Linked DNA regions of Homo sapiens. The protein of the gene in region 5 purifies or fractionates together with the protein of the main gene of each other region. This does not show direct contact. Each region holds a gene or a part of one and is shown on either strand. Other genes may lie near its edges. The genes, in order: ACP3, ARL8B, PADI3, KLHL24, CPLX3, PKP1 and SIRT5.

Region 1 (4,502 bases), on a different chromosome or scaffold from region 5:
TGTGCTAGGAGAATCAGACCTGGTCCCTGCCCTCCAAAAACTCATAAAATAGTAAGAAGAGACAGGTCTGTACACCAGTAAGTATAAAAAAGGGTTAATTAAGGAGGTAGGTATCTGCTCTTTCTATAAGATACTGGAAATTCCTTGAGGATGAATAGGATAATCTGAATGTACATGTCTAACAGGTCTAAATCCCTCCATCTCAGAGAGGGTTGCCCTGTGGAATGCATTAGGGACTTTAGCTTGATTCACATGCCATGTTGGTGCTAAACTCTGTGGCCAAGCTTTTGGGAGCCATGACAGCCACCTGAAATCAGCAAGTTGCCCTTTGTCAACAAGTGCCTTTTAGTCAGGCTGCAGTTTTGGTCATGAATATATCAGTTCTTGGTTCTGGTATGATTACACCCTTATCCCAGGAGTGATTAGGGGTGACTATCATGATTATCCTCAGGCTCTGGCATATCAATATTCTGTTTTATAGGGGAAACTGAGGCTTGGAGAGGCTCAGAAACTTGATTAGATTATACAACTTGCAAGCAGAGAAGGAGGGCTTTAAATCTAGCATGTCCTGTGTCAAAACCTTTATTTGTAATCATTAGAACATGCTATCGTGGAAAGCTAGCTTCAAAGTTATCTGTTGTATCCTTTATTAAATCTTCGTAAACTAGACAAAAATATCATTGACCTGAAGACATAAACTTTGCTTCCTTCATTTCTAGTCTACAGCAGAGGTTGGCAAACTTTTCTGTAAAAGTCCAGAGAGTAAATGTCTTAGGCTTTGTGGGTTAAAAAATCTGTTGCAACTACTCAGCTCTGCGGTGGTAGCATGAAAGCAGCAATAGACAATGCATAAATGAATGAGTGTGGCTGTATTTCAATAAAACTTTATTTACAAAACCAGGTAGTGGGCTGGATTAGGCATACAGGCAGTAGTTTGCCAACCTCTGGCCTAGAGCAAGAAGAGCTCTCTTTTCACTGATATGACCAGCCATATGATCCTAAATTTGCCCCAGGGATTTTTTTGGTGTGTGTGTGTGTGTGTGTGTGTGTGTATGTGTGTGTGTCTTACTGAACAGTGTCACCCCTGAAGTTAAATGATGAAATAAAAATTCTAGACTGGGCACAGTAGTTCATGCCTATAATCCCAGAACTTTGGGAGGCCAAGGTGGAGGATCGCTTGAGCCCAGGAGTTCAAGACTAGCCTGGGCAACATAAGGAGACCCTGTCTTTGCAAAAAATTTAAAAAAAATTTAGCTGGGCATGGTGGTGCATGACTGTAGTCCCAGCTACTTGGGAGTCTGAGGTGGGAGGATCGCTTGAGCCTGGGAGGTCAAGGCTACAGTGAGCCGTGATCATGCTGCTGCACTCCAGCCTGGAGGACAGAATGAGACCCTGTCTCAAAAACAGACACAAAAACAAACAAAAAATACAAAGAAACAAAAACAAAACAAACTAACAAAAAAACTAGCAAAGGTCAGAAGATGGCCCTGATGTGTCCACATTACTCTTTGTCACCTAGACAATGTGTGTTTTCTGTGCAGGAATGTGTGCAGCTGTTTCATCATTCAATAAACATGTAGTTGACAAATCTCTCTTGCCCAGCCAGATCTGAATAATAGTCTGAGCTTTTGTTTTGGCAGAACCACACAGGAGAAATTTTCCTGCTTAACAATGGCGCTGGACTTTTTCCAGAAAGCAGGACAGCTGGTTTCATACAAGTGCCAGCCTTTAGAATCCAAGATCAGAGAACAACTCAGAGAAGGACTCTTATAGACAGTCTAGTTTAATCTCCTCATAGGTAGTGAAACAGAGATCCAGAGAGGGGAAGTGGCTTCTCCCAAATGTAATCTTCTAGTAGGCAAGGGAAATAAAAGAGGAAACATGAGGAAAGTGGAGCAACTCCATTTCTTATTCATACATACACATCCCTACATCTACTATTAGACTACTGTCAACTCCTGTCTGGTATAAAGCATGTTGGGATTTTATTCAAATGCAGATCCTGATTCAACTCGTTTGGGAGTGGGGCCTGTGTTTCTAGCCAGGTGGTAGTTGATGCCGATGCTGAAAAGTAGACTGCACTTTGAGTTGTGAGGGACTAGGTGCCTGAATCCACCATAACTAGGTTGGGGGAAATAAATCAAGAGTCCCGCTTCCACCATTTGATGGGGCTTGCAACTGAGTCACACTGCTGGCACCTGGTGGGCCAGAAATGAGGCTGAGTGCTTATGTGGCTTCCAAGGCACCCTCTACATCTTTTGTTGTTAAGCACTTAAGATTGAGCTTCTTCCTGGGTTCTGCCCATAGACACAGTCTGTATCCCGCCTGGTAATTTTTTCCAACACTCCAGCTTCCATCTAAGACTCCTCTCTGGAGACTCTCCCTTCCTCAAGGCTGGATCTTGTTGCTCATGTGTTTAATGTGAAGTAAGGACTTGCACATTTCTATCAAGTCTGTCTCTGTGCCATGCAATCAGGATTTTTGTAATAGCAGATCTACAACAACCTCATGTCGTTAATGGCCACTGTCCTAAATTTTTTGCCCCAACCTACTTTATTCATCTCACATGAATTTGCTCCTGACCATCCTGGTTTCATACCTCATTCCCCTGGTTACAGCTTGCCTCACTCTTTATACCTGGTGTGCAGCCCTGCTTTTCTAGCTATAATTGATTCCTTTTCTGGTCAGTGATTTGAATTTTTTCCCTAGTTAAGTAGCCTCAGTGAACAACCTCCCAGTCTGGTCCAGCCCTAATATGCTTTGCCTCTATGCATTCTCTTGGGATTTTGATGGACTTGTCCTGATGCTGTGGTGAATAGTGTCTGTCAATGGCTGGAATCATGATGTGATTGTATTAATCTCAAAATGCCTTGAATATGTGTGTCAGCCTGACTTGGACCATCTCCTGTGGCTTGGACTTTCCTCATTACGTCAACCTGACATGATGAACTTTCTCTTCTTCTTTATCCCTAGTTTTAATACCTATGATAACCACATCTAAGTCTGACACCTCATTTGGTATCTTGGCCTGCCCATCCAGTTTCTCTCATAAGCCCCAACATCTGTCCTTGTCTTTGCTGGTCCTGACTTTTTTCTTCCATCCACTTATCCTGATTACAAGAATCCAGCATCCTCTTGCCTGGGTCTGCCTTCATATGACAGGGTGTCCTGTGCTACGAAGAGCCAGTTCTAACCAAGAAGAGGCATCACTGATAAATAAATCTCAACAGCTTTCAATGTCAATGAAAAATTTCAAGCTGTGTTATAAACTTGTCAATTGCAACATATTTTAACAGCACATAATTGGTCTGAAAAATATAACAATTAGCCTGAAAAATATATTTTATCGGCTTTCACAATGACTACCACTCAGGGTTTCAGGAAAACAGGCCACTTTTGTCATACCTCCCACTTGAAAAATTCATCATATAGGCCACAAGACACAATTGATTTTCATGTGGCTCAGACACAGATCCTTGATTTTTGATCTGGAGGGGATGGAAAGGATCATTTAGCTTTAGCTTTCATTTTCCAGATAGAAAACTAAGGGCTTGAGTGAGTAATAGTTATGATTATACTAACATATGACATTTATTGACAGTGTATTATGTACCAGGTACTGTTTGCTCTAAGCCATTTGAATACATACATTCATTTTAATACTCACTGTCTATGAAGTAGGTATCATTAATATCCCCATTTTGCAGAATGGAAGCTGGTGCAAGAGTGATTAAGTGAACTGTCTGAGATCACACAGTTGATTAGTGGAGGGAATGACTCAGACCTGGATCATTCAACCACAAATCCAATATGCTCCTCTCATTTTTTAATACTTACCCCCTTGGAGCCTAGATTTCTCTTTCTGCTTGTGAATTCCATAGAGGGACAGGAGGGACAATTCTGACAATTCTCTCAACTTAGTCATGGTGTCCTCAGTGGCCCAGGAGGGTAAAGTGAAATTGTGAACACTCTGTAGCAAAGAAAAAGGAAGAAAAATGTATGTGTATTTATATGACTGTCCTCTTTGTTGACTTATCCTTTTTCACCTCACAAGAACTAGTAGGGCCAGACTTTCTTGTCCTGCCATTTCTTTCTAAAAGAACTTCATATTGTGATAAGTAGTGGTATTGACTTTCAGAAGAAAAGCTTATATAAATGAATTTACCCATTCCTACCCAGTCCATAGCTTTTGGTTTAACTCTGGATCAGTGGGTGGCTCATATTTTGCAGAGTAAGGGTGCAGTAGGGAAATAATACCTCATTCCTTTATGAAAGGGTTAGAAATCTTTCTATGAACCTGACAGAGTTAAATGATATTTCCTTAAAAGCTGAATGGGCTGCCTGAGAGGCCAGTTAGGAAAGGCAATATATTTCTGGAGCCTTCAGTAATATATTCTCCCCTACCCCCATCAAGGTCTAGTTTGCTGACTTTTTTTTTCTTTTTTTTTTTTCAGAGACATTGTCTTGCTCTGTCACCAAGGCTGGAATGCAGTGGCCATCAC
Region 2 (4,502 bases), on a different chromosome or scaffold from region 5:
AGATCCATTTGTCTTTAGGATATGAACTTCTATCAGTATCCACAGAGGCTTTGTGTAATTTTTTAGTGAATTTCTTTTTTTTTTTTTTTGAGATGGAGTTTCACTCTTGTGGCCCAGCTGGAGTGCAGTGGCGCAATTTTGGCTCACTGCAACCTCCGCCTCCTGGGTTCAAGTGATCTCCTGCCTCAGCCTCCCGAGTAGCTGGGATTACAGGCGCCCGCTGCCGTGCTCGGCTAATTTTTGTATTTTTAGTAGAGATGGGGTTTCACCATGTTGGCCAGGCTGGTCTCAAACTGCTGACCTCAGGTGATCACCTGCCTCGGCCTCCCAAAGTGTGGGATTACAGGTGTGAGCCACCGTGCCCGGCCATGAATTTCTTAAATATTTAAATTTGGTTATTTCACTTCAGATTTACCTTTCTCCCATTCAGTTCCAATGAGTGTGGCTTTGCTCGTATTGTGCACTGTTGTCCCCATTTTAAGGTGCAGAGGTGCTTCTTCAGTAGTTGGGTTAAATCATTGCTTCCACAATGGTGAACAGTTCATGTTTGTTATAGCTCAGCCCTGTGGTGTTTCGTTAATGCATGTTAGCTGGGAAACTGGTAGTGAATTTACCCTCATCTTTCAGGCTTGGAGAATAGAGTGGTGCTTCTGATAGACTCTCATGTACCCTTCTGAAGAAGTGAGGACAAGAATTACCCAGCCCCAGATGTCAAAAGGGCATGGTGTGAACCCTGCACCAGCCTTGGCAGTGACAGCCTCCTCTCCCATCCCTGTGCTTTAGTCACATTGTATCACTCACAATCCATCCAGAGCTCCACAATGTTTCATGCCTTTTAACATTCTTTTGCTGTTTTTTTTTTTTAACCTGGAGTTCTGTGGGGTGGCCCCCAAGCCCCGGGAATTACTGCATCTTTTCTGTGTATTATACTTAAAAGCGCCTTGAGGGCAAACAGGGGTTATTCCTTTTTTTTTTTTTTTTTTTTTGCCTTCCTGGCAATTTGCATGCAACACCTGATTGATTGTGTGGGCAACACATAAAAGGTGGCACCAGCCGTCCTATACACAACTTAATTTTTAAATCAGAAAACGCTTCAGTCTCTGATAATTCCTCATATTCTCTTGAAGTTCGGGTAATGGAGTATGGTAATGCAGATGCAGAAAAGCAGCAGAGGTCAGGCATAGTGTGTGCCTTGAATTAGCTGCCTTTTAAATATTGTCTCTGTTTGATGTTTAGTTTTTTAACTTTAATGTCTTCACTTTTCCCCTCTATCTTTAGATATCACACTTCAGTGGCTTATTCAGCATTCAAAATCTAGAAGAAGCTGAAGCATCTCCTGAAGTCTTCCAGTCCTTCTTGGCTATAATCCTAGAATTATTGTCCGTTCCTCTGAAGTAATTCCCAGAATACGGTCCTTCCTAAACCCCAGAAATTGCCTTTTTCAGAGTTTATTTCTCATGTGCACTGCTGAAGATGAATATCCCTAATCCTTCATAAAGAATCAGCTAGAGTTGTCATGATAAAGTCAGCACACACAAAAAGGCTTCTTACACATACCTGTCTTAAACCATGTGTAGAGCTTTAAAAACAGAAAAAAAACCCCATATACTTATGACCATCTTAAATCAAGAAAATTGCATATTTCCATTCTGGTCTTTCTGGGCCAGATTTTTATATTGGTTTTCAGTAAATGTCTATCTATAATATTTCATTATAGAGTCCAGTAGCTTAATACTGACACTGACTTGATACAGCATGAAGTTTCTAGTGCCACACACAGTATTTAGAAAACCTTTAGGCGTGAATGACTCATGTGGGATATATGTAAACATAATGTTTATTTTATCTCACAAATGCATGTGAAATGTATAATTACATCTTAGGAATCCAAAATGGTCTGCAGAGAGTGAGCGGAGGCACCAGATCAATGTTGGTTCTTTGCACTGGTGAGATTCTGCCTGATGAATATTAAAGATATCCTGCTTTCTGAGAACTCTATCACCAGATGGCAGTTGGGATATGGGAGGAACTAAAGCATCCTGTTTTGTATCTGTCCAGATCATTATTTCTGTCTCTTGTTTTTTCTTCCTGGTTCAGGATACTTTTTTAAGGGGTTGAGAATTGAAGATTTTCCAAAAGCGTTCATGAATTTAGAGCATTCCACCCAATATAATAAAACCTGTTAAGAATGTCAGTCTTTGTTCAAACATCTGTTTGTTCTATCTCCAGTCATTAAATCAGTGCTGCTGCATGACACTCTTAACTCCTGACTTTTTATATCCAGTCATAAAGTTGACTTTCAGCACAAAAGATACTTATAAACAAATAAAAAATTTTTATTTTTCTCTCTTACTGATGTAAGCTTTGGCACTCTTTTGACTGGTGCCATTAGACATCTTGATTATTGTGACAACTCTAGACCTGCCTGCTTTATCTAATGTAATCATGCTCAATGTCTACAGGTTGTTTAATAATCAGTCACACAGAGAACTGAGGAACTGATGCTGTTTGTTTGCTTCTATGATACAGAGATGTCTAAAAACTTCAAATGGACATGTTTTGTAGTTTAGCGACTTCCGTATACATAAAGGGACATATTAATACTGGTTCATTTGTAAATTATTATTCATATAGACCACTGTAGTAGATAAAACTCTATGGTACACCTGCTTATGTGTTGCCTCACACTGTGTGTGATTTTGTTTCTTTTGTTAAGCAGCACTTATGTAGACTGCATTTCCAAATGTGTTGAGCACTCAGAGTGTAGTCAACAGTAAGTTCTTTTAATGAATATCAGTTTTAATTTATAGACTGCCATGGCCTTAAAAATATTCTGTACAATATACTGCACTGTGTTGCACAGACACTACTTGCTTTTCTCCATTCATATTTTTATGAGTAGAATCTGGGCTTTTAAATTTCTCTTCTTATTCTTTGAAGCATGTTGCATACTACCCTGGTGGGATGGATGGTTCTGTAAATGAAGGGATATTTAAACTTGCTACTGTTGTTCAACACCATTAATGGTCAGTGTGAACCATTACAAAGAATGTGGCAACTTGCTTGTGCCTAAAAGGAGGAATTGGAACTAGAATGTGTGACTCTGTGGGGACTGCATAGGTTTGTTAATTGACCTATAGCTAAACCTTAATGTGTTTGTGTGTCTATACATTGCTTTCCGCATTTCAAGACATCCAGACGCTATTACCAACATTTTCCTGTGCATTAACCTCTGCATGTGAAAACTTTTAACAGTTACTGAACTATGTAAATATGTGAATTTTTTTATTTAGGTGGATGCATTTTTTGTCTGTTTACTGCTCTTCTCAGCTTTATTCAATAAACTTGCATTTTAAGGGTTGTATTGGCAATTTTAACTTAAAATGTGCATCATGATGGAAGGTGCAGACTTTTTTGGAAGTTTCCGAGAGGAGGGTCTATAGACCATTTGTCAGAAATCAGATCAGCCCTCAAAGAATGGGGTCTGTGGGCTAGTTAAAATAGAAATAAACTTTTAAAATATCCACAGAATTGATATTGTGATTTTTTGGGGGCGGGGGAAATGCTACTACTTGTCAACGGTCACAATACACCAAATTTAGGACTTTAAGTGGCAAGTGCTAGTAAAACATTTTATGTCCCAGTTTTTACAAATCAAACCAAGACCCTGCTAAGCAAATGAAGTTGCAAGACATGCCTATTCACTGACTTCAGTTCAGAATGGAAATATTTTAAGTACCGAACATGCTGGTTTTCCCACAAAGGCACATTTTTAGCATAAAGCTTTTTGCTAGTTTGGTATCATCTGCCCATAAAATAAGTCAATACTTGAGCTATTGGAAAAATAATTGTGTATATTTTTATTTGTTTAGAAAGGTTCAGTTAGCATTTTCTCCATACGCATACTACAATTCTGTACAGCCAACCCTTAGTGGCCAGTTGGATGCATGATTTCGCGTTTATTTCCCTGGAACGTCACGTTGATGTGTTTTTGTCTTTTCACTGCATTACTGGAGCCATGTAGTCAAGCATCAAGTTTCATCCACTTCTCACCATTCTCCTACCAAGGGGGTGAGTGTGTGAGAGTTGAGGGTGAGGATGGGGGAACACGGAGGATATACATTTAGCTTAATTCTAAATGTGTATCTGCTTTTAAAAACTTCTAAACTTATAAAGTTGGTCTTTGATTCTGTCAAGTAAATTGGGTGTTTGAGGAACTAACTGCTTTGTCTGTTTGCTCCATGTAGGATTGAGTTACACTGATACCCTGTTGATTTGGTAATTCCAGCTGCTCCAAGGGTCTGGTGGGTTCAGAACTGGAATGGAAGCTTAAACATAATGTAGTGGGCATCATGCTGTAACATCCAGTTGGCCAAATGCTTTACTCTAAAAATGTGCCACAGTGGGGAAAGCACGATGTTTGATGTTTAAAATGTTTTTGTTATGTTACAGACTTTTAAGGTTATGCCCTCAACTGTGCATAGCAGTGAAGAGACTTGAAA
Region 3 (4,502 bases), on a different chromosome or scaffold from region 5:
AGTCAAGGTCTTGCTCTGTTGCCCGGGCTGGAGTGCAGTGGCATGATCTCAGCTCACTGCAGCCTCCACCTTTCAGGCTCAAGCAATCCTTCCACCTTAGCCTCACGAGTAGCTGGGACTACAGGCATGTACCACCACACCCTGCTAATTTTTTTTTTTTTGTAAAGACAGGGTTTCACCATGCTGCCCAGGCTGGTCGTGAACTCCTGGGCTCAAGCAATCCACCCGCTTTGGCCTCTCAAAGTACTAGGATTATAGGCGTGAGACGCCGCACCTGGCCTGAATCTGATTGTCACTGTTAACGAGTTGGGATGTGTGCTTCCCAACTTTATTCTACATGTTCTCCAGCGTGTGTCCATATGCTGCTTTCCAACCGGCTTCTTTCATTAAGTAATAATCCCACACACCTTTTCTGGTATTTATTGAGCTCTACTTCATTCTTTTCCACTGCTGTATAATATTCCTAAGCATAGAGGTGCTGTGACTTACACAGTTCTCTGAACATCATAGTGGTTTGCAGTGTTTTGATTTTATAACAATGCAGGTTGCTTGAGGTCAGGGGCTTTGTTCAAGTCCAGAACCGTGCCCCATGGGTGCACTGTAGTTGCACAGTAAATATTTGATGAATTAATGAATATCGAGCACTCTTGTACAGAAATATTATGTGACTTTGTACCTATTATTGTTTGTTTGTTGTTGTTGTTTTGTTTTTTGTTGGTTTTGGTTTTTTTTGAGATGGATTCTCGCTCCATGCCCAGGCTGGAGTGCAGTGGTGTGATCTTGGCTCACTGCAACCTCCGCCTCCTGGGTTCAAGCAATCCTCCTGCCTAAGCCTCCTGAGTAGCTGGGATTATAGGTGTGCACCACCACCGCCCGGCTAATTTTTGTATTTTTAGTAGAGACAGGGTTTCACTATGTTAGCCAGGCTGGTCTTGAACTCCTAACTTCAGGTGATCCACCGCCTTCGGTCTCCCAAAGTGCTGTGATTACAGACATGAGCCACCGTGCCCAGCCTGTAGATGTATTTTTGTAGGAAAGATACCTAGCAGTGGAATTGCTGGGCTTGGGGTAAACATTACTTTGTTGGATGCTGCCAAATTGTGCTCCAAAAAGGTATGAGCGCCAGTCTTAGAAAGGAAGACCCTTTCCCCCAGCCGTGGCCCCCACTGTGTATTACCTGTCCTCTCCTTTGCCAGTGGAGGTGAAAGGAGGGAGTTGTTGGAGGACTTGGAATTTTTGGTGAGGCTGCAGACCTCTTCCTGTGTCCCTCATACTCATGCTCCCTGGGCCCACAGGGAGTCACAGCCACCCCGTCCCTCCCCTTCCAGGTCCTGAGGATGTGTGTGAGGCCTATAGGCATGTGCTGGGCCAAGATAAGGTGTCCTATGAGGTACCCCGCTTGCATGGGGATGAGGAGCGCTTCTTCGTGGAAGGCCTGTCCTTCCCTGATGCCGGCTTCACAGGACTCATCTCCTTCCATGTCACTCTGCTGGACGACTCCAACGAGGTAGGGACAGAGGGGGTTCAAGAGGAGCTCCACTCGGGACCAGCCTGGGCAACATGGTGAAACCCCATCTCTACAAAAAAAAAAAAAATAGCGAGGTATAGTGGTGTACACCTATAGTCCCAGTTACTTGGGAGGCTGAGGTGGGAGGATCACCTGAACCCCAGGGAGGTTGAGGTTGCAGTGAGCCATGATCACCCCACTGCACTCCACAGCCTGGGCAACAAAGTAAGACCCTGTCTCCAAAAAATAATAATAATAAAGGGCAGTGGGGAGGACTCCATTCCTGGTAAGTCTACCAGGCACCACTGGTGTGAAAGACCCCAGACTTCTTGACCACCCCTCTGGTTCATTTCCATCTTGCAGAGAAGCAAGGGGTTTTCTTATGGACCACAGTGGTGGAATCAGAGTCCCCCCAGGCCTCTGGACTCCAAGTCCAGTGCTCTTTCTCCCCTGGTCTGCCCCTGCAGGATTTCTCGGCATCCCCTATCTTCACTGACACTGTGGTGTTCCGAGTGGCACCCTGGATCATGACGCCCAGCACTCTGCCACCCCTAGAGGTGTATGTGTGCCGGTGAGTCTTGGGGCAGTGGGTGGTCCCTCTGGCCCCCAGGCCCCGGCTCCATCCTGAGCCCCTCTTCCCTGGGCTTGTCCGTAGTGTGAGGAACAACACGTGTTTTGTGGATGCGGTGGCAGAGCTGGCCAGGAAGGCCGGCTGCAAGCTGACCATCTGCCCACAGGCCGAGAACCGCAACGACCGCTGGATCCAGGTAACCACAGCCACTGGGCAGGGCCCAGCAAGGACGCCATCCTGGAGAGAGAGGCCTTCATTTGGGGGCCACCGAGAAACATCCAGGAGGACCTGGGTGCTCCCCAGGGAACTTGCTGCCGTTTCTAATGTGAGACCTAGAGGCTTCTCTCCAGAACCTTCTGGAGACCCACGCTGATCCTGGATTCAACACCCATTCACCCACCGGATCTGGGCTAGGCACTAGGCTAGGCCCACAGGGGTGGCACAGGTGTGAGACACACACTCCCTGCCCTCAACAGCTGAGACCAGTGGTTCTCATCAAGAGGCGATGTGTCCCCAGGAGACGTTTTGCAGTATCTGCAGACAGTGCGCAGGACAAGCCCCCACAATAACATATCATCCAGTCCCACGCCTCAGTAGTGTCGAGGCTGAGAAACCTTGATGTGCAGAATGATTGCTACAAAAATACCTACTCCTACTATCTAGTGTGTAGCTGGGGCAACATGGTGAAACCCTGTCTCTGCAAAAAAGTTAAAAAATTAGCAGGGCATGGTGGCGTGTGTCTGTAGTCCCAGCTACTCTGGAGGCTGAGGTCAGAGGATCACCTGAGTTTAGGAAGGTCAAGGCTGCAGAGAGCTGTGATTGTGCCACTGCACTCCAGCCTCAGCAACAACAACAAAAAAAAAAAAAAAAAAAGAGAGAGAGAGAGAGAGAAAAAGAAATATCTAGGGTGCAGAGGCTATACCAGCAAAGCACCAGTAGGGTTTGGGGGATGCAGCATCACCTCTGCCCAGGGAATCAGTGAAGACCTCCAGGAGGGAGAGCATCTGAGCTGGACCAGATTTGGCAGATGAGGGCACATGACTTCTGCCATTTATGCCCCATTTTCTGCAGGCCAGGCATAGCATCATTTCATCTTCTTGATAACCCCCTGTAAGTCCCCCATAATTCAGGAGCTCTTAGGGGAGCATGACTGGGCCACAGAGCTGGTAAAGGCAGTGCTAGGACTCAGGCTGCCAAGCACCAGGCTGTACAGGTTGGTGGTCCTGGCAGAGACCGAGCATGCGCAAAGGCCCGGGGGTGGGAGGCAGGAGAGAGAACCTTGTGTGTTCTCCTCTGTCAGGGCACTGGTTCTGAGAAAGGCAAGGGTTGAGGTCGGAGACCTTGAATTCCAAGTTAAGGAGCTTTCCTCTTGGCCGGAGGTCAGTCCAGTGAGAGGGTTTGGGGCAGGACTCTGGGGCACGATGGGCTGGGTTTAGAGCCTGGCTGTGCCACCAACTAACTAGCTGTGAGCTTTGGGACAAATATTTTTTAATTTTTATTTATTTTTTTAAATTAATATATTTTGAATTTATTTTTCTTTTTGGAGACAGTGTCTCTCTGTCACCCTGGTTGGAGTGCCATGGCATGATCACAGCTCACTGGCAGCCTGGAACTCCTGGGTTCAAGTGATCCTTCTGCCTCAGTCTCCCGAGTAGCTGAGACCACAGGTGCAGCCACCAGGCTCAGCTAATTTTTTGTAGAGATGGGGTCTTGCCATGTTGCCCAGGGTTGTCTCAAACTCCTGGCCTCAAGCAATCCTCCCGCCTCACCCTCCCAAAGTGCTGGGATTATAGGTGTGAGCCACCGTGCCCGGACTGGATAAATAATTAGACCTCTTAGTTCCTCATTTTCCTCATCTGTCACATGGGATAATTATGGTGCCCACGCCCAGGCATGTCATGAGGATGAATGGAGTTAATGTTTATAAAGAGTTTAGGGCAGGACCTGGATGTGAAGTTCATTCACACTGGGCCATCTTTTCCTCCAGAACCAGAGGGGTCAGGACTGACCTGGGCACATTTATGGATCCAACTCAGGCCACTGTGAGTGCTTCTCTGTGTCCACCTGCCTTGGCCCAGTACTCACAGGGACACCCCCAAGGTCATGTCCATGTTCTCGTTCACCTCCGGCCTCTGTCTTGCTGTGTGACCTTAGACAAGTGCACCCCCTCCTTGAGCCTCCAGCCCCTCCTCCAGTCAGCAGGCACCCTGACCTCGGTCCTGTCCGCCTCCAAGCACAAAACATGCTTGGGCCAGGGGACTTGGTGAGCAGTCTGCCCCACAGGGCTCAGAGCCGAGCCAGCAGGGGCAGCTGTTGACTGTCACAGCTGTGCGTCTCTCGCCTCTCCTCACTTGCAGGATGAGATGGAGCTGGGCTACGTTCAGGCGCCGCACAAGACCCTCCCGGTGGTCTTTGACTCCCCAA
Region 4 (3,201 bases), on a different chromosome or scaffold from region 5:
GTCTGTTTTAAAGGAAAAAATCTTAATATTGATTGATATGATAATCTGATAGCTGGGAAGGCTCATATGATTTTTCTGACTCTTAATTTATACTCCTTGTACAATGTTGATATCTATATTTTGTATAGGAGATTTATGTGAGCTGGGCATTGTGGCTCATGCCTGTAATCCCAGCACTTTGGGAGGCCAAGGCAGAAGGATCACTTGAAGTCAGGAGTTTGAGAGCAGCCTGGGCAACACAGCAAGACCCCCTGTATCTACAAAAAATTTAAAAATTAGCTAGGCGTGGTGGCATGAATCTGTAGTCCTATAGCTACTAGGGATGCTAAGGTAGGAGAATCACCTGAGTCCAGGAAATTGAGGCTGCCATGAGCCATGATTGTGCCACTGCAGTTCAATCTGGGTGACACAGTGAGATCCTGTCTCGAAAAAAAAAAATATATCCTAACATAATTAGGAGGAAACTATCCCTTCTGTCTCCATTATCAGTTAATAAATAGCAGAGAAGCAGAAGGCAGGTATAGTCCATTTCCCTCCACATTCCATTAAGACAGCAGGTTATTTTATTTATTTTTTTTTTTTGAGACGGAGTCTCGCTCTGTCGCCCAGGCTGGAGTGCAGTGGCTCGATCTTGGCTCACTGCAACCTCCGCCTCCTGGGTTCAAGCGATTCTCCTGCCTCAGCCTCCCCAAGTAGCTGGGACTGCAGGCACACACCACCATGCCTAGCTAATTTTTGTATTTTTAGTAGAGATGGGGTTTCACCATGTTGGCCAGGATGTTCTCAATCCCTTGACCTCGTGATCCTCCCGCCTTGGCCTCCCAAAGTGCTGGGAATACAGGCGTGAGCCACTGTGCCCAGCCAGGTCATTTTTTTTTAAACAGAAAATTTAAAGTATAATAGAAGAGGCTGGGTGCAGTGGCTCACACCTGTAATCCCAGCACTTTGGGAGGCTGAGGCGGGAGGATCACGAGGTCAGGAGAGCGAGACCATCCTGGCTAACACGGTGAAACCCTGTCTCTACTAAAAATATAAAAAGAAAAATTAGCCGGGCGTGGTGGCATGCACCTGTAGTCCCAGGTACTCAGGAGGCTGAAGCACGAGAATCGCTTGAACCCAGGAGGCAGAGGTTGCAGTAAGCCAAGACTGCACCACTGCTCTCCAGCCTGGGTGACAGAGTGAGACTCCGTCTCAAAAAAAGAAAAAAAAAATTTTTTTTTTTGAATAGGGAATACTTTCGTGTGTTTCAGACTAAAAAATTGATTTTATATGTATTTATAATTACACACATATACGTATGCAGTAAAGTTTCATTTTTACTTGTCCTTCAGCCACCATTTCCTTTCCTCTTACACACTAATATTTTCAGTTTCTTATTTATCCTTCCAGTTATTTTATGGACATACCAGTAAATACACACATATATTAATATATCCAGTATTTTCCCCATCTCTTTTTTGCACAACCCCTTAAATATACTTAAAATAAAACAGAACAACAAATTTTTCGTAAACAAAATTTAATACAACCATATAGTCAAGTAATAATGGTTAAAAGACATTTTATTAGATACAACTTTTAAAAAATTAAACTATGCAAGAAGTATATTTAAACAAAACATGTAAGTAAGTATTCACGTGCTACAACTTAACTAAGAACAATTAAATACAAAGCATTCTTTCCACTATGAAGACTCTGGAGCCTCTAATTGAAAGCAAATGACCTTAGGTCTATACTAGTTGTAAAGCAGATTATACTTTTGTTCAACTCTAAATTTGTATTGTCTTAGAGCTCCAACAACTCTCAATAAAAATTTAAATAAAGAAACCTTGGGGGAGGGGTGATAGGGAAGGGGAGAGTAAGTGCTTTTTCAAAAAGGTAAATGAAAAAGCCTGAAGAGGGAAAAAATTGTACATAAGTATGGAACAAAAATAAGTATACTTTTTTGACATTCGATGTAGATACTGCAAATGAATTTACACGGGTTTAATCAATGTAAGATAGATATTTGTCTGAATATTTTAAAAAGCACCTAGGTATCAAAAAATAAAAACAAAAAATATAATGAAACTCCAAACATCCAACAATCTCCCTTAACATTCTCATTCTGCCAAGCAACCACACGTTGGTGCTTATTACACAATTTAAGAAGGGGAAGTTTATTTACTCTATAGGAAACAAATATGAACCTTATCTAAGGTAAGCTTCATTTAGATTGAAAAAAAAGTTGAAATAGCACTAGAGAACTTAAGGCACATAAACAAATTCAGGTGCAGTTATTTTGAAACCATTAAAACAAATTCTTTTCTTTGGAACAATATATAAAATAAGTTATGAATGTTGCTGTTTTTATCAGCACTAGGAAAATTTAATATCTAAGGCAATCACACAAATGTAAAATGTTCATATAAAACATTAAAAAATGTCTAAAGTGTCTCTGGAATTATTCATTCACACTCCTGGCTCAAATGGTTTCTGGTGCCTAGCATTAGATGTGACAATAATGATAGCTAGCTAGTCAAACCTACTGCCTTAAAGATCAACCAATTTGCTCCATTCTGGTTACTTGGCATGGTAAATTTATTTAACTAAAAAGAATAATGGGGTGAGGTGATGTAAACCTGGCTTTCAATAAGATGCACAACAAATTCTAATAAGGCCAAAACTCTGTTGAGGTTAACTGGTGTCTTGAGTTTACTAAAATAAAGGCAGTCCATAGGAAGCCTCAAAGAGACATTATCTTACCACTTGGCACCACAAAAACACCAAGCTCTCCTCTCTGAAAATACAGGCCGGGGGTGGTGGCTCACGCCTGTAATCCCAGCACTTTGGGAGGCCGAGGTGGGCGGATCACGTGGTCAGGAGTGATCCGTCTCTACTAAACCCCGTCTCTACTAAAAATACAAAAAAATTAGCCGGGTGTGGTGGCACGCACCTGTGGTCTCAGCTACTCGGGAGGCTGAGGCAGAATCCCTTGAACCCGGGAGGTGGAGGTTGCAGTCAGCTGAGATCGCGCCACTGCACTCCAGCCTGGGCGACAGAGCAAGACCCCGTTCTCCCCCCTTCCCCAAAAAAAAAAAAAAACGAAAAAAATACAGTTTGAAGTAGATGTCGTCTTTTCCACATATAAATCTCAAGACATAAAAGGCACACACAATTCAACTCCTCTCTTTTCATATATGGGTTCTCACAGCAATTTAA
Region 5 (3,678 bases):
AGGTTCCAACCAGCCTTGCTTTGACAGGGTTCAGCGAGTGCAAGTTCCCCAGCCCCCACTGCCCACCACCCCTGCCTCTCCTTCTCGGCCCTGCGAAGCACTGAGGGGGAAGGGGTCTGTCGAATCCCATTAGGCAGAAGGCCCCGGAGGGCGGAGTGCTGACGTGGGCCTTGCTGCTGATGCTGCGGAGGCAGCCCATGACCCCCCTACCCGGCTTGGGGCTCTGGCTTGGGTCTCCTCCAGCTCTGAGAAGGTCAGGAGGAGGCCCTGGCCTGGGGGCAGCCCAGGAGCAGCTCAGAGGCCCAGGCCCATTCCCTGGGGACACTCAGGAGAGTGAGACCAAGAGTGACAGCTTCAGCAGCAGACTCCAGGGCTGGGCCTGTGTCTCTCCCTGCCCTGTCTCCTCTCTTCCAGCCCCGCATGATCTCCTGTACAGGTTGTATATGCCTTGTTTTTATTTTACAAAGGAGACCTCATGGAAACTTTGCCCTTGAAACCCAATCCTCAGACAGCCGCTCCTGCCTGTGAACCTTGGCTGGCTTCCCTACAGGCCGGGCCCTGGACCTCGGGGTGGGGCACCTAGGGTTGGCCCCATAGCACCTTCCTCCTGCCCAGGCCCCTGGGGCGACCTGCTTGGGGAGCTTCCTGGCTGGTTTCTTAAACCTCCCCTGACCCCTGCCCCTCAGCCCCTGCCACAGGTGAGCGGGATGAGATCTGGGCTCTTCATTTTTTTAAAAGAATGAGTTACATTTATTGATATGGTTTGTCATATGCTTTATAAATGGTCACCCTTTGAAACATGTATTATTACTATTTGGGGGAGAGGGGGACTGTTCATTTTACAGGGGACAAGCAAGACAGGCTCAAGGAGGGAAAGGACAGGCTCAAAGTCATCACAGTGTGGGGCTGGAATGCAGTTGCCCTTCCTTCTTTCTTTTTGCACATCTTCCGTCTCTAGGGTGAGGAGGGGTGTAGGCACAGGCACCCAAGACAGCTGCGGTCCAGCCCCGGCCCCACCTGTGGTCTCAGTGACGCCCCAGAGGCCCCATCTTCCCCACATAATGAGGCTGCTCCATCCTCCTCAAAGCCCAGACCTATTTCATAAGCCCCAGACCCCACCTTCACCCAGGGCCCCAAGAGAACAGAGCTGGAGACACTTCTACTCCTAGCACTGGATGCCTTCTCCCCTCCTGTGAAGCTGTAGGTGGGGGGTGGAGGACACCCCTTTAAGGCAGGCTCGGGGGGCTATGAACTCCAAGACTCCTGGAAGCCAGTAAGAAGTGGGAAGGTAGGCACACCATTTGGGATTTTTATTTTTCACTGAGCTAAGAGAGGAGATTCCAGCTATGGAATCCAGAGAGCGTTCTACAGGAACAGAACAGAAATTGGCTGGGCCCTGGGCCCAGAGGAGGCCTGGAGCCGCTTACTGTTCAGTGCCAGCTTCATCCTTGGCACTCTGCCTCTCACACAGCATCGCTCCGGCTCCCAGAGCCCACAGTGGCAGCCGCTGGAGGCTGTGGCAGCAGCTGCTGCCCTGCCCAAGGAGGGATGTGGGCTTGGCTCTGACAGTTCAAGCCAGAAAGAGCCTTAGAAGTCATTCAGGACATTCCCATTTTACAGATGATGAAATAAGGCTCAGAGAGAGCAGGGGCTTTCAAGAACAATAAAGGTGGAGACTGGAACTCAGGCCTCCTGTCTGCTGAGGGTGTCTGCCCATGCTCTCTCTCAGAGTTTCTGAGTGGTGGTGTCTGGAGGGGCTGGACACGCAAGGGAGCTGGCCTCGTGTGTGTCTGTCTGTGCCGGGATGTATCTGTGGCTTCTGTCTCTGAACGTGCCAGGGGTTTTGTGTCCTGTGTGTGTCTCTCTGTGGGTGCTCCTGTGTGCAGGAACTTGGGGCCATGGCCAGAGAGGGATGGGCCTATTCCTACAATCTTGGGAGGCCTCCACAGGCTGAGCTGGTGGGGAGGGTCCTGAAGGGTAGAGTGAAGATGGGGACTTTACTCCCAGCGGAGAGGAAGAAACCAGAAGATAGGCTTGGGGCATGGATGGGAAAGGTCTTGGAACTAGGATGGGGCAAGGGAAACAAAGCCCCAAATGGAGTATGGGTCCCTGGAAGTTGACACACTCTTAGCCCTCATGGGGGCCCAGCCCAGTGGGTAACCCCGGGGAAGTGGTCACATGACGTGACACTTCTCAGCTGATTGCTTGAGATCCCCCAGTGTGGCCTGGGCCTTGTCCTTGAGTGAGCCCAGGTTCAAGCCAGGAAGGCTGGCCAGCTGCCCAAGGACTGAGGCCTTCTCCTCCTCCTCCTCTGTGTCCTCCTCGATCATCTTGGCCAGCTCCCGGGGCAGCTCCACGTCTCCACCTGCCATCTGGATCTGGCTCTCATCTGTCTCGTTCTGAAGGGAAGAGGGGAAGAGGGGGTGGGGTGGAGTGGAAGTCTGTGAGGACCCAGAGTTGAGAGGACAGGGAGGAGGCTTGGACTGGGTTCCAGGCCCCTAGATTCTATTTTTTCTTTTTTTTTTTTTTTGTAGAGACGAGGTCTCCCTATGTTGCCCACGCTGGTCTCAAACTCCTGGGCTCAAGTGATATGCCCACCTTGGCCTCCCAAAGTGCCGGGGGAATACAGGAATGAGCCACTGTGCCCGGCCCCTTAGATTCTTGAGCCCCATGTTCCAGTGAGCTCAGCTCCCACCCCCACATCCCAGGATCAAGCGTTTGATGCCTGGACATGGAGACCTTTTTATATTACCTTATTTCACTCTGAGATGCTGAAGGACCAGCACAGTGAGTAAAGACAAAATGAAAATACCTATGAGTCACACTGTTACAGTCAGCTAAGTCATGTTTTGACTCTTGTTATGCTTAAGGGTGTAACCAAAAATAGTGATGGGTACCATTTATCAAACATCTATTATATCTATTACATGGCAGACGTTGAGCTGGGTGCTTTTAATTCTCACAATAACCCTGTGAGGTAGGTAGGTATTGTTATTTCCACTTCACAAATAAGGAAATTGAGGCTTACAGGATTTAAGTAACTTACTTTAAATTTAAGTTACTTAACTAACTTAAGTAACTTAAGTAACTTAAATTATCCAAGATCACACAGGCAGGATGTTGGGGAGCTAGATTCAAACCTATGTCACTGATTCCAACATCTGTGTTTTTTTGCATGGCACCTACGATGACCATTGCCCTTCACTATTCTTCTGGGGGGCGCCTTATGTCCTACTCAGTTGCATCCAAGTCTTGGCTCTTCTGCTCAACTCTGACTTTGCTGATGGCAGGTGTCTCTTATATGCCTAGCGCAAGCATCTGAGGAATGATTTTATTCCTAGAAGAGTTTGCAGTGAGGCAGGCTTTCTGGACCGGTTTTTCCCCGTGACAGATTTCCAAAAGATTGGTGCCCTGTGGGGAGTCAGAAGCAGCTGGGGACTCAGTAAATATTTGTTGAATGAGTGAATGTGATGTTCATATATTTGGTCATTCAATTCAAGTGGAAGATCAAAATCAGGAGCGCTATAGCCCTGTGCTGTTTTCCCCTGAGTCCAGCACAGTTCTGGATGCACTAGGGTGATATTCTGGGAGAGATTTGTGCTTCATTCCCCTCCTTAGACAACAGGAGCAGCACACTTACACGCCCATCTGGTGGTGCACTGCCCAGGGGAGCGTGGG
Region 6 (4,502 bases), on a different chromosome or scaffold from region 5:
CTAAGGTGGTCTGAGCCCCTACAGTTCCAAGAACAGATTCCCCCTTGTGCAAGATGAATGGCCTCTACCCAGCTCCCAGAGTGCACCCTGAGCCCCAGGCCAAGGTGTCAGCATGGGCCTGTCCCTTAGGGCTGGCTTCAGGCTCCAGGAGGGCCCAGAGGAAAGGGCAGATGAGGCAGTGGCTCCTGGGGGGGTGCTTGATGGGGCAGGCCCCGCCCTGCTGATGCTGTGCTCACCATCATCTTGTCGCTCTTGTTGCTGAAGCAGCCAGTGGAGGACTTCTCGGTGTAGGCGTTGCGGGCGTTATACTCCAGCTGGCGGTAGCGGGTGGGCACCTCGGCGTCCAGGCGGTAGGAGAGGTTGTGCAGAACACACATGCAGTTTTCCACAGACTGGGGACCAAGGAGAGGCATGGGCCTGAGCCTCTGCCCGGCCCGACAGGCTCCTGGCCTACCACCTACCCTAGCTAATAAGAGAGCAGAGGCACCTGGGCTGCATCGGGAAAGATGAGCGCAGGCACCACCACACTATCAGCCTGGGAAGTCTTCCAGGGCCACCTCTGGGACCTGAGTTTGAATCTGTCATTTCCTGGCTGCATGAACTTGACTGGCCTCACTTCTCTGGGCCTCAGCTATCTCAAATGTAAAATGAGACTACAATTGTCCATTTCACTAGGCTATTTGGAAGATGATACAGAGAAAGCACTTATCACAGGGCCTAGTGTGTGGTAGGACTGCTATGGACAACATGCCAATGGGCAGACTGGGATATTGAAGAATGTGTCTTTTTTTTTTTCCAGAACAAACTCCTCCAGAAGAAGCCCCATGCCTCTAGATTCCAAAGCCATCTAGTGCCCCCATCATTCTTTCTTCCTGGGGCCAGTCCTTAGCTGTCAATGTCAGCGGTGCTAAGTCCACACAAAACACAGCAACACCTGGAGCCCAGGGCTTCATCATGGCAGCTGGGCTCAGATCTTTGTCAATCTCCTTTGGCAAACCTCCAAAGGACTAGGGTTTGGGGGCAGCAGATTTACCCTCCTAATGATGTTTGGCCCTTGCTGGGGTCTAAGGGAATCTGACTTCCAGGGCTTGGGGTTACACAGGTGTTGGAGATATTGCACACAGAGCAGAAAAGCATCTTGCCCTTTGGAAGCAGGCTGAGCAGCCCAGTGACAAGGCTCTCCTCTGTGGCCCTGCTGTTGCTTCCAGTGGAGGGAGCAGGAGATAAAATCCCTCCTTACGGCAACTGTGCTGAGAACCCAGGTGCTGTGATGTCAGCCCGTTCCCTGGCGATCTGGAGCCTGCTGGGCCTCACTATCTCCTGAGCCACTGTCCTGCCATGGTGGGAACATCTCAGCCTTCTGTTTATCTGCCCTCCACAACTTTTTTTCTTTCTGTTTGTCTGTGCTGTGTGTCCAGAAGTCCAGAGAGGGCAGCAAGATGACTGCCAATGGCTTTTCTGGGAGGCAGTGGGAAGATAGCAGTGGCAGAAGGAGCCTCATCTCAGGGGGGACACTAAGCCCTGGGGGCACCAGTATGGATTCCTCTGGGCTGTGGGGCAGGGCTCGGGGTCACAGGACAGGCCTCAGCACCACCAATGAAGCACAGCCAGCAGATGCTCGCTGGGAGCTTCCTCTGTGCCAGGCCCTCTTCGTGTTTTGCTTATTAACTAATCAAGCCTTTCAGACAACCCTTGAGGTTGATATGATTATGACCCTTTCCATTAGAGTGAAGAGTGAACCGGGAAACAGAGAGATTAGGGAAGCAGCTGCATCTACTCCACTTCTAAGTGAGGGAGAGTGGATTTGCATGGGCACGCTGTCCCCAGAGCCCACTCCTGTAGCCACCACTGAGCCCTGCATCCAGATGCCTCTTCTACCACCCCTGAGTCTGTGCTCCTGTCTTGTCACTGGGCCAGGCCTCAAAGGCACCCAGAAAATGTAGGGGGCTGGGCCTAGGGGTCAGGGTGCCACCAGGGGATGCACTCACCTTGTCGTCACAGCGGCTGGCCGCTACACAGTTCTGGACATAGGCCATGAGGGAATCAATGAGCCCTGAGTAGTTACGCATGGTCTGGCGGCCTGCATCGGCCGAGCTCAGGTTCCTGGGGGAGAGAAGAGGGTGGAAGAGGGCAGAGAAAGGGGGAAGAGAGAACGGGGAAGGTGGGGACAAGAGAGTGTGGTGGGGGACAGGCAGGAGAGAGAACAGGCAGGAGAGGGGAGGGCAGAGAGGAGACGACGGGGTGGAGATTGGAAGTTGTGGTAGAAGGAAGGAAGGAGAAGAGGAAAGGGAGGAAAGGAATGAAGAGAGGAAAAGATGAAAACGGAAGGAAAGAGAAACCATTTAGCCAATTCCGCCTGGCCCTGGCTGAGGCTGAAATGAGGTCTCATTTGCACTCAGTTCTTCTCCTCCTTCACTCTGCCCAGTAACTTTATAACTGGCAATGGCTCCATGTGGCAACGGTCCCTCCGCAGCTGCATCCCAAGGCTCACACCCTGCTACTAGTGGCCCTTTGCGGAACAAGAGCCAGAAGCTCCCGCATGCCCAGTCTCTTTCTGTGGGACAGGAAGAAGCCCTGTTGATGCTGGATCAGAAGTGGATCTGGGGGTGGCCGGGCTGGGCACCAGAAGCTCCCTCTCCACCCAAGCTGTGTTCTGCCCCCAGCAGTAGGCTCACTCCCAAGCAATGTGGGCTCATCCCCAAGCAATGTGGGCTCATCAGCCTGGTGCAGGTGGGGTGTGGCTGCTGTTGCTACCAGTAGCACATCAACCCCATAAAACTCTTAATTATCCTCACTTTTCATCTCCCCAGCCTCTCTGCTTCCTGGAGGCTGCTACCGGAGGCTGGCAGGGAGAAACACAAGTTGAGACACAGAGGCACATGCCAGCTGCACCCACCACTCTGGGGGGATTCTCAGGAGTTGGGAAAGACAAATCCCATTAAAGCAAGACAAACCCCATTAAAGACCCTAAAAGGGATCCTGCTCCAGGGTTCCAAGCCCTGTACCAGCCGCCCCTCCACACCCACCCATTTCGCCAGCTTGTAAACCACTGCTTCTAGAACAAGCCCTCCCACCAGCCCCACAGGGGCTTTGCCACACCCTGGTATGGAACTTAGGCAACTTTGGGTGAAGCAGTGCCATCTTCATGCCAATGAACATGGCAAATGGTTTTAACACCACAGCTGGGAAGTGACTCATTAGCAACCCATCGGTAGACTTTTGTCTAAAAGAACACTCTTCAAGATGATAGCACAAGAAATGCATTTTTTTTCATGGGGTGGAGGAGGGAAATGGTTGAACCAGTTTGGATATTCAGATCTAGGCATTTTCAAGCTCAGATTTCTGACTAATGTCCGCTGCATTCTCTCAAAGGGGGTGGTAGGGTCCTGGGCCTTATCCAGTTCCAGGGAAGTTAGGAAGGCCTGAGTCCCTGTGTCTTGGAGCCTGCCCATAAGAGGGAGTGCCGGGTTGTCTGTTATGTTCTATGCACCGGCTGAATGTTGGCTGAGATGGGGCTGCCTGGGGAAGGGCCCAAGGCTGGGACAAAAAGACCCCATGTATCCTCTTCTCTCACCTCAAGCAGCCTGTGGCATTGAAGAAGACCTCAGGGTCCACCACTTCCCGGGACATGTTGCTATTGCCATCGCACCAGCCAGAGAAGGGAATGATGACGCGGTCGGCCAGAACAGGCAGGGCGTCGGCAATGAGTTCCTCCTTCAGCTCGTCAGTGGAAGACAGGTTCCAGAGCAGCCCTGGGGGTCAGAGACCATCAACCCAATTTGTGCCAGGCTCAGGATGCCCTAGGGACCGAGGTAACAGCCCCAGCCTGGACTCTGGCAAATGGGCCCTACTGAAATGTCGCTTTCCAGGTAGCCCTGGTCTGTAGAACCTATTGTCTGTCTGTGTCATGAGGCTATTTCTCAATGCCCCAACCAGACTGAAGGTTCTTTGCAGGCAGGGAACATCTCAGAGTTCTCTGTCAAGGCCAAAATTATGCATGTGGAAAGTGATCAAAAAACGTTTGATTGATCAGTGGTTTTTAGTATAAATTTTAGCACTTGGAGTCTTCTAACGCTGTCTCTTTTCCATCTGAAAGTTATGCCAGAAATACTTATCAGTCATTACTCTGTACATGGTCTGATCTTCCCAGCCCAATTCTAGGTCTTCACGGTGACCTCTTCCTCTTGTGCCCCCCACCTTGAGTGCCTACCATATTTCTTGAACACAGGGTAGGTGCTTAAGGCCTGTTAACCCCTTCTCCCCTCAGTCTTACTCTCTTTCCATCACCTGGGAATCCCAGGGCTTGTGGAATATGGATCTTGCCTGGACATCAGCCTTCCTCCTTTTGCTCTTTAACCTCAAAAAGATGGTGACCCCTTGTGTGTGCACACCACCCAAGGTCACCCTCTGGACACCCCTAATTGGGCCAAGGCCAGTGTCACTAAACTCTCAGGATATTAGCCCTGGGCCAAATCTGCACAGCTGTGTCTTGGCCCAGCCTG
Region 7 (4,502 bases), on a different chromosome or scaffold from region 5:
GATATTTGTTTTGTTTACTGATATATCCTATCTTAAGCACTTAGAAAAGTGTCTGATACATAGTGGATACTTACAAATATTTGTGGACTTTAATTAAATTCCAACATTTAGAGAAATTTAAAGATCAACAGGGCACAACATAGTGGCTGCAGGGCACAGTGGGCCAAAGGTGCTTTGAAGGCCCTGGCCACCAGCTCCCTGCAGCGACAGTCCCATTTTTGCCTCAGCGAATGTACAAATCCTACAAGCCAAGGCCCCCTGGGGTTGAGTAACAGTCAAAACACTGAGGTTTAAATTCAAAAATGCCTAGGGTTTATTGGAATAGTCAGGGTTTATCAGAAATCATCCAATATAAGCATCGGACATGGGGAAAACGACAAAACCAAAACTGGAACTAATTAACACCTTGAAAATAGAAATACATTCCTGTGGGAGGAGAATTCTATGCCTTTGTCACTAGATTAGAACTGGGGCAAAGAATCTGAACAACTTGTGTAAGGCCTAAGGTGTCTTGTGAGATCCAAATCCTTATTAAAATATAGGCAGCATTCTAGCTGCCTATTTAGGTAACAAAGAAAATCAGGTTAAAAGTAGCAGAGAACATTATTCCATTTTTTTTTTCTCCGTAACCTAGAGCAGGGGTTAGAAAACTTTTTCTGTAAAGGGCCACACAGGACATATTTTAGGCTTTGCAGACCAGCCAGTCTCTGTTGCAACTATTCACCTCTGTCATCCTAATGCAAAAGCAGCCACACACAATATACAAACATATGGCCACAGCTGTGTTCCAATGAAACCTTATTTACAGATACAGGTGGTGGGCAAATTTGGCCCACAGGCAGTAGTTTGCTGACCCCTGACCTAGGGTAAAGTTCAACCAAAATCTGTTAAGCACGAGATATACAATTCTGCCATTGTTAAGCTCTGTGTTTAAACAGTCCTCTCAATTGCTCCAGGGTTGGTTTCTGCCTTTGAAAAATTGAGTAGGATGAGATGACTATCACCAGCATCTCTTCTAAATGTCAGCTTTGATGATGCCAAGAAAAAAGCATTGCTGGCTTCATTGATCAGTTACTCCTTCATTGATGAGATGACAGTTCTTGTGGTCAGTCTGGTTGATAAGTAGCTTGCCAAATTGATAAGAATTTCTAACTAGCAAGTAGCCTGTTTGTTAGAGACAATCATAGGTTTTCAAGACAATATGAAGCTGAAGAATTTTGGCTGAAGTAGCAGCTGAAACAGGTCTGTGGTTTTAGGAGGCTTGACTTGAGCAGTGATATATATTACATGCCAAGAATCTCTCCTGAACTGGCAGGAAAAACCACCAAGTTCAGTTTCTTTCACATGAAGACACAGCCACCATATCCAAGGGATGCTGGGCCCCTGCTGCTCAGTCCATGGCATGGGAGGTGGGGGCCAACTCTAAACTTGGGTTGTGGAAATACTCCAGTTTTATTTTCTTCTTTTTCTCTATCTGCATTTTCTTGCTTTTCTACAATGATGACTTGTTTTAATTCTTTATAATAATTAGAGATGAGATGGAGATCAAATGACTGAAAAGAAACCACATTAGAAGAACCAAACTGGGGACATAGCTCAGGTCCTGCTTCACAAAGTTTATCCTGTCCCACTCTTCGAGTTTTCTGATGGTCTTTCAAACAGACAGGAGGCTTGAGCTGCCTAGCTCCGGTATTACTACGCTTAGTCATGCTAAGTGGCCCAGCTGCTCCACATAGGTGCCACAACACAAATCAGACGGAGGCTCAATGTGCATTTTTCAGGAGATAAGTTAGAAGATCATTTAACTTTTTATCTAACAGCTTTATTGAGATTTGATTCACATACAATCCACCTATTTCAAATATATAATTCAGTGGCTTTTAGTGTATTCACAGAATTATACAACCATCACCACAATCAACTTTAGAGCATTTTTAACAACCTCAAAGAAACTTGTTCTCATTAGCACCCACTCCCAATTCCTCCCTACTCCCAGCCAAAACAACCACTCATCTACCTTCTCTCTATTGATCTGCCTATTCTAGATATTTCGTATAAATGAAGTCATACCATATATGGTCTTTTATGACTGGCTTCTTTCACTTAGCATAACGTTTTCAAGGGTCATCCATGTAGTAGCATGTATGGATATCTCGTTCTTTTTATGGCTAAAATATAGTCCATTGTACAAACATACCAAATTTTATTTATTCATCCTTCAGTCGATGGACGTTTGGGTTGTTTCTACTTTTTCCATTAACAAGTTGCTATGAACATTTGTGTACAGATTTTTGTGTAGATGTATGATTTCATTTCTAGGACTATATACCAAGGAGTAGAATTGCTAGATCATATAGTAACCCTATATTTAAATGCCACATTGTTTTCTAAAATGACTGCGCCATTGTACATTCTCATCAGCCATGTATGAGGGTTCCAATTTCCTCACCAACACTTGTGATTTTCCTTTATCTTAAAAATTATAGCCACGCTTGTGGCTGTGAAGTGGTATCTCACTGTGGTTTTGCTACTGAACATCATTTCAATATGCTTATTGGCCATGTGTATATATTTGGAGAAATGTCTTTTCAAATATTTTGACCTGGTTTTTAATTGGATTGTCTTTTTATTATTTATAGTTGTAAGAGTTCTTTATATATCCTGGATACAAATCCCTTATCAAATATCAAATATTAGACTTACAAATATTTTCTCCGATTCTATGGGTTGTCTTTTTTTTTTTTTTTTTTTTGAGACGGAGTCTGGCTCTGTCGCCCAGGCTGGAGTGCAGTGGCGCGATCTCGGCTCACTGCAAGCTCCACCTCCCGGGTTCACGCCATTCTCCAGCCTCAGCCTCCCGAGTAGCTGGGACTACAGACGCCCACCACCACGCCCGGCTAATTTTTTGTATTTTTAGTAGAGACGGGGTTTCACCGTGTTAACCAGGATGGTCTCGATCTCCTGACCTCATGATCCACCTGCCTCGGCCTCCCAAAGTGCTGGGATTACAGGCGTGAGCCACCGCACCCGGCCTGTGGGTTGTCTTTTTACTTAATCGATGGTACCCATTGGAATACAGAAGTTTTAAATTTTGATAAAGTCCAATTTATCCATTTTTCTTATGTTACTTGCTCTTTTGGTGTCATATCTAAGAAAGCTTTAACCCAAGGTTACAAAGATTTACTCCTACATTTTCTTTTGACATTTTATACTTTTAGCTCTTACATTTAGGTCTATGATCCATTTTGGGTTATTTTTTGTAATGGTGTGACAGAGGGGTCCAAGCTTATTCTTTTGCATGTGGGTATCCAGCACTATTTCTTGAAAAAGACTGTATTTCATCAAATTGTCTTGCCACTCTTTTCAAAAATCAGTTGACCATGAATGTGAGGTTTGTTTTATTGTTCTGTTTTGTTTTGTTTTTTACTGGACTCTCAATTCTACTCCACTGATTCTATATATCTATCCTATGCCAGTGCCACACTGTCTTGATTACTGCAACTTTGTAGTAAGTTTTTTTTTTTTTTTGAGACGGAGTTTTACTCTTGTTGCCCAGGCTGGAGTGCAATGGCACAATCTCGGCTCACTGCAACCTCCCCCTCCCAGGTTCAAGCGATTCTCCTGCCTCAGCCTCCCAAGTAGCTGGGATTACAGGCATGTGCCATCATGCCTAGTTAATACATAGTAAGTTTTGAAATTGGGAAGTATGAGTTCTCCAACTTCATTTTTCATTTTGTTTTGGCTATTTTGGGTCCCTTGCATTTTCATATGAATTTTAGATTAATCTTTTCAATTAATTGCTGTCAAAAGCCAGTTGTGATTTTGATAGGGACTGAGTTGATTGAGCCCATAGATCAATTTGGGGAGCATTGCCATCTTAATCATATTAAGTTGTCCAATCCATGAACACTGGATATGTTTCCATTCATTTAGGCCTTCCTTATTTCTTTCAATAATGTTCTGTAGTTTTCAGAGTATAAGTTTTGCATAGGAGGCAATTTTTTTTTAAGGCTATCTTCTTAGTTCCTACTACTCACACACAGATGAAGAACTATGGATCAAGAACACAGGCTGTAGCTGATCAAAAAGACACATGGAAAAGAAGAGGCTCAGAGCCAGTTCACTCACTTGAGGAGGGGCCTACTGAAGTGTCTGTGGCCCCTTTTCTTTCTTTTTTCTTTTTTTTTTTTAAATCCCAGCAAAGACTTAGAAGAGTGGTTCCTATCCTGGCTGCACACAGGAATCACCTAGGAAGCTTATCAAAATGATGATGTCTGGGCTGCAACTCAGAGCAATGACATCGAAATTTCATGAGGTGGCACCCAGGCATCAGTATTTTTAAAATATGCAGCCAAGGTTGGAAACTGTTGATTAAAGTAATGACAAGATGGTTCAATGAAGTTTTCTATTTTATTCATTTATATTAATTTACTACTTATTTATATTCTAACTTATTCAAAAGGAATTAACTAGATGGACAAGAATTAGAGGTAAAAGCAAAA

Evidence for each region.
Region 1: the proteins of CPLX3 (region 5) and ACP3 purify together in Homo sapiens (affinity purification with mass spectrometry; 2 studies listed by BioGRID and IntAct, with this or other methods). This does not show direct contact.
Region 2: the proteins of CPLX3 (region 5) and ARL8B purify together in Homo sapiens (affinity purification with mass spectrometry; 2 studies listed by BioGRID and IntAct, with this or other methods). This does not show direct contact.
Region 3: the proteins of CPLX3 (region 5) and PADI3 purify together in Homo sapiens (affinity purification with mass spectrometry; one large-scale study listed by BioGRID and IntAct). This does not show direct contact.
Region 4: the proteins of CPLX3 (region 5) and KLHL24 purify together in Homo sapiens (affinity purification with mass spectrometry; one large-scale study listed by BioGRID and IntAct). This does not show direct contact.
Region 6: the proteins of CPLX3 (region 5) and PKP1 purify together in Homo sapiens (affinity purification with mass spectrometry; one large-scale study listed by BioGRID and IntAct). This does not show direct contact.
Region 7: the proteins of CPLX3 (region 5) and SIRT5 purify together in Homo sapiens (affinity purification with mass spectrometry; 2 studies listed by BioGRID and IntAct, with this or other methods). This does not show direct contact.

The regions. Positions count from the first base shown.
Region 1 is NC_000003.12:132,344,395-132,348,896, reverse strand, and holds part of ACP3 (prostatic acid phosphatase isoform PAP precursor), read right to left. Parts: intron 3,971-4,502; coding exon 3,838-3,970; intron 1-3,837. UniProt on the Homo sapiens protein: A non-specific tyrosine phosphatase that dephosphorylates a diverse number of substrates under acidic conditions (pH 4-6) including alkyl, aryl, and acyl orthophosphate monoesters and phosphorylated proteins.
Region 2 is NC_000003.12:5,177,386-5,181,887, forward strand, and holds the end of ARL8B (ADP-ribosylation factor-like protein 8B), read left to right. Parts: intron 1-1,278; coding exon 1,279-1,328; 3' UTR 1,329-3,526; downstream 3,527-4,502. UniProt on the Homo sapiens protein: Small GTPase which cycles between active GTP-bound and inactive GDP-bound states.
Region 3 is NC_000001.11:17,268,905-17,273,406, forward strand, and holds part of PADI3 (protein-arginine deiminase type-3), read left to right. Parts: intron 1-1,328; coding exon 1,329-1,507; intron 1,508-1,974; coding exon 1,975-2,078; intron 2,079-2,162; coding exon 2,163-2,274; intron 2,275-4,435; coding exon 4,436-4,502. UniProt on the Homo sapiens protein: Catalyzes the deimination of arginine residues of proteins.
Region 4 is NC_000003.12:183,682,821-183,686,021, reverse strand, and holds the end of KLHL24 (kelch-like protein 24), read right to left. Parts: 3' UTR 1,503-3,201; downstream 1-1,502. UniProt on the Homo sapiens protein: Necessary to maintain the balance between intermediate filament stability and degradation, a process that is essential for skin integrity.
Region 5 is NC_000015.10:74,828,851-74,832,528, reverse strand, and holds the end of CPLX3 (complexin-3), read right to left. Parts: exon of another isoform or gene 3,641-3,678; intron 3,412-3,640; exon of another isoform or gene 2,828-3,411; intron 2,400-2,827; coding exon 2,175-2,399; 3' UTR 727-2,174; downstream 1-726.
Region 6 is NC_000001.11:201,317,868-201,322,369, reverse strand, and holds part of PKP1 (plakophilin-1), read right to left. Parts: intron 3,753-4,502; coding exon 3,575-3,752; intron 2,555-3,574; coding exon of another isoform or gene 2,492-2,554; intron 2,104-2,491; coding exon 1,989-2,103; intron 393-1,988; coding exon 237-392; intron 1-236. UniProt on the Homo sapiens protein: A component of desmosome cell-cell junctions which are required for positive regulation of cellular adhesion.
Region 7 is NC_000006.12:13,601,527-13,606,028, reverse strand, and holds part of SIRT5 (NAD-dependent protein deacylase sirtuin-5, mitochondrial), read right to left. Parts: exon of another isoform or gene 4,392-4,502; intron 1,554-4,391; coding exon of another isoform or gene 1,511-1,553; exon of another isoform or gene 290-1,510; intron 1-289. UniProt on the Homo sapiens protein: NAD-dependent lysine demalonylase, desuccinylase and deglutarylase that specifically removes malonyl, succinyl and glutaryl groups on target proteins.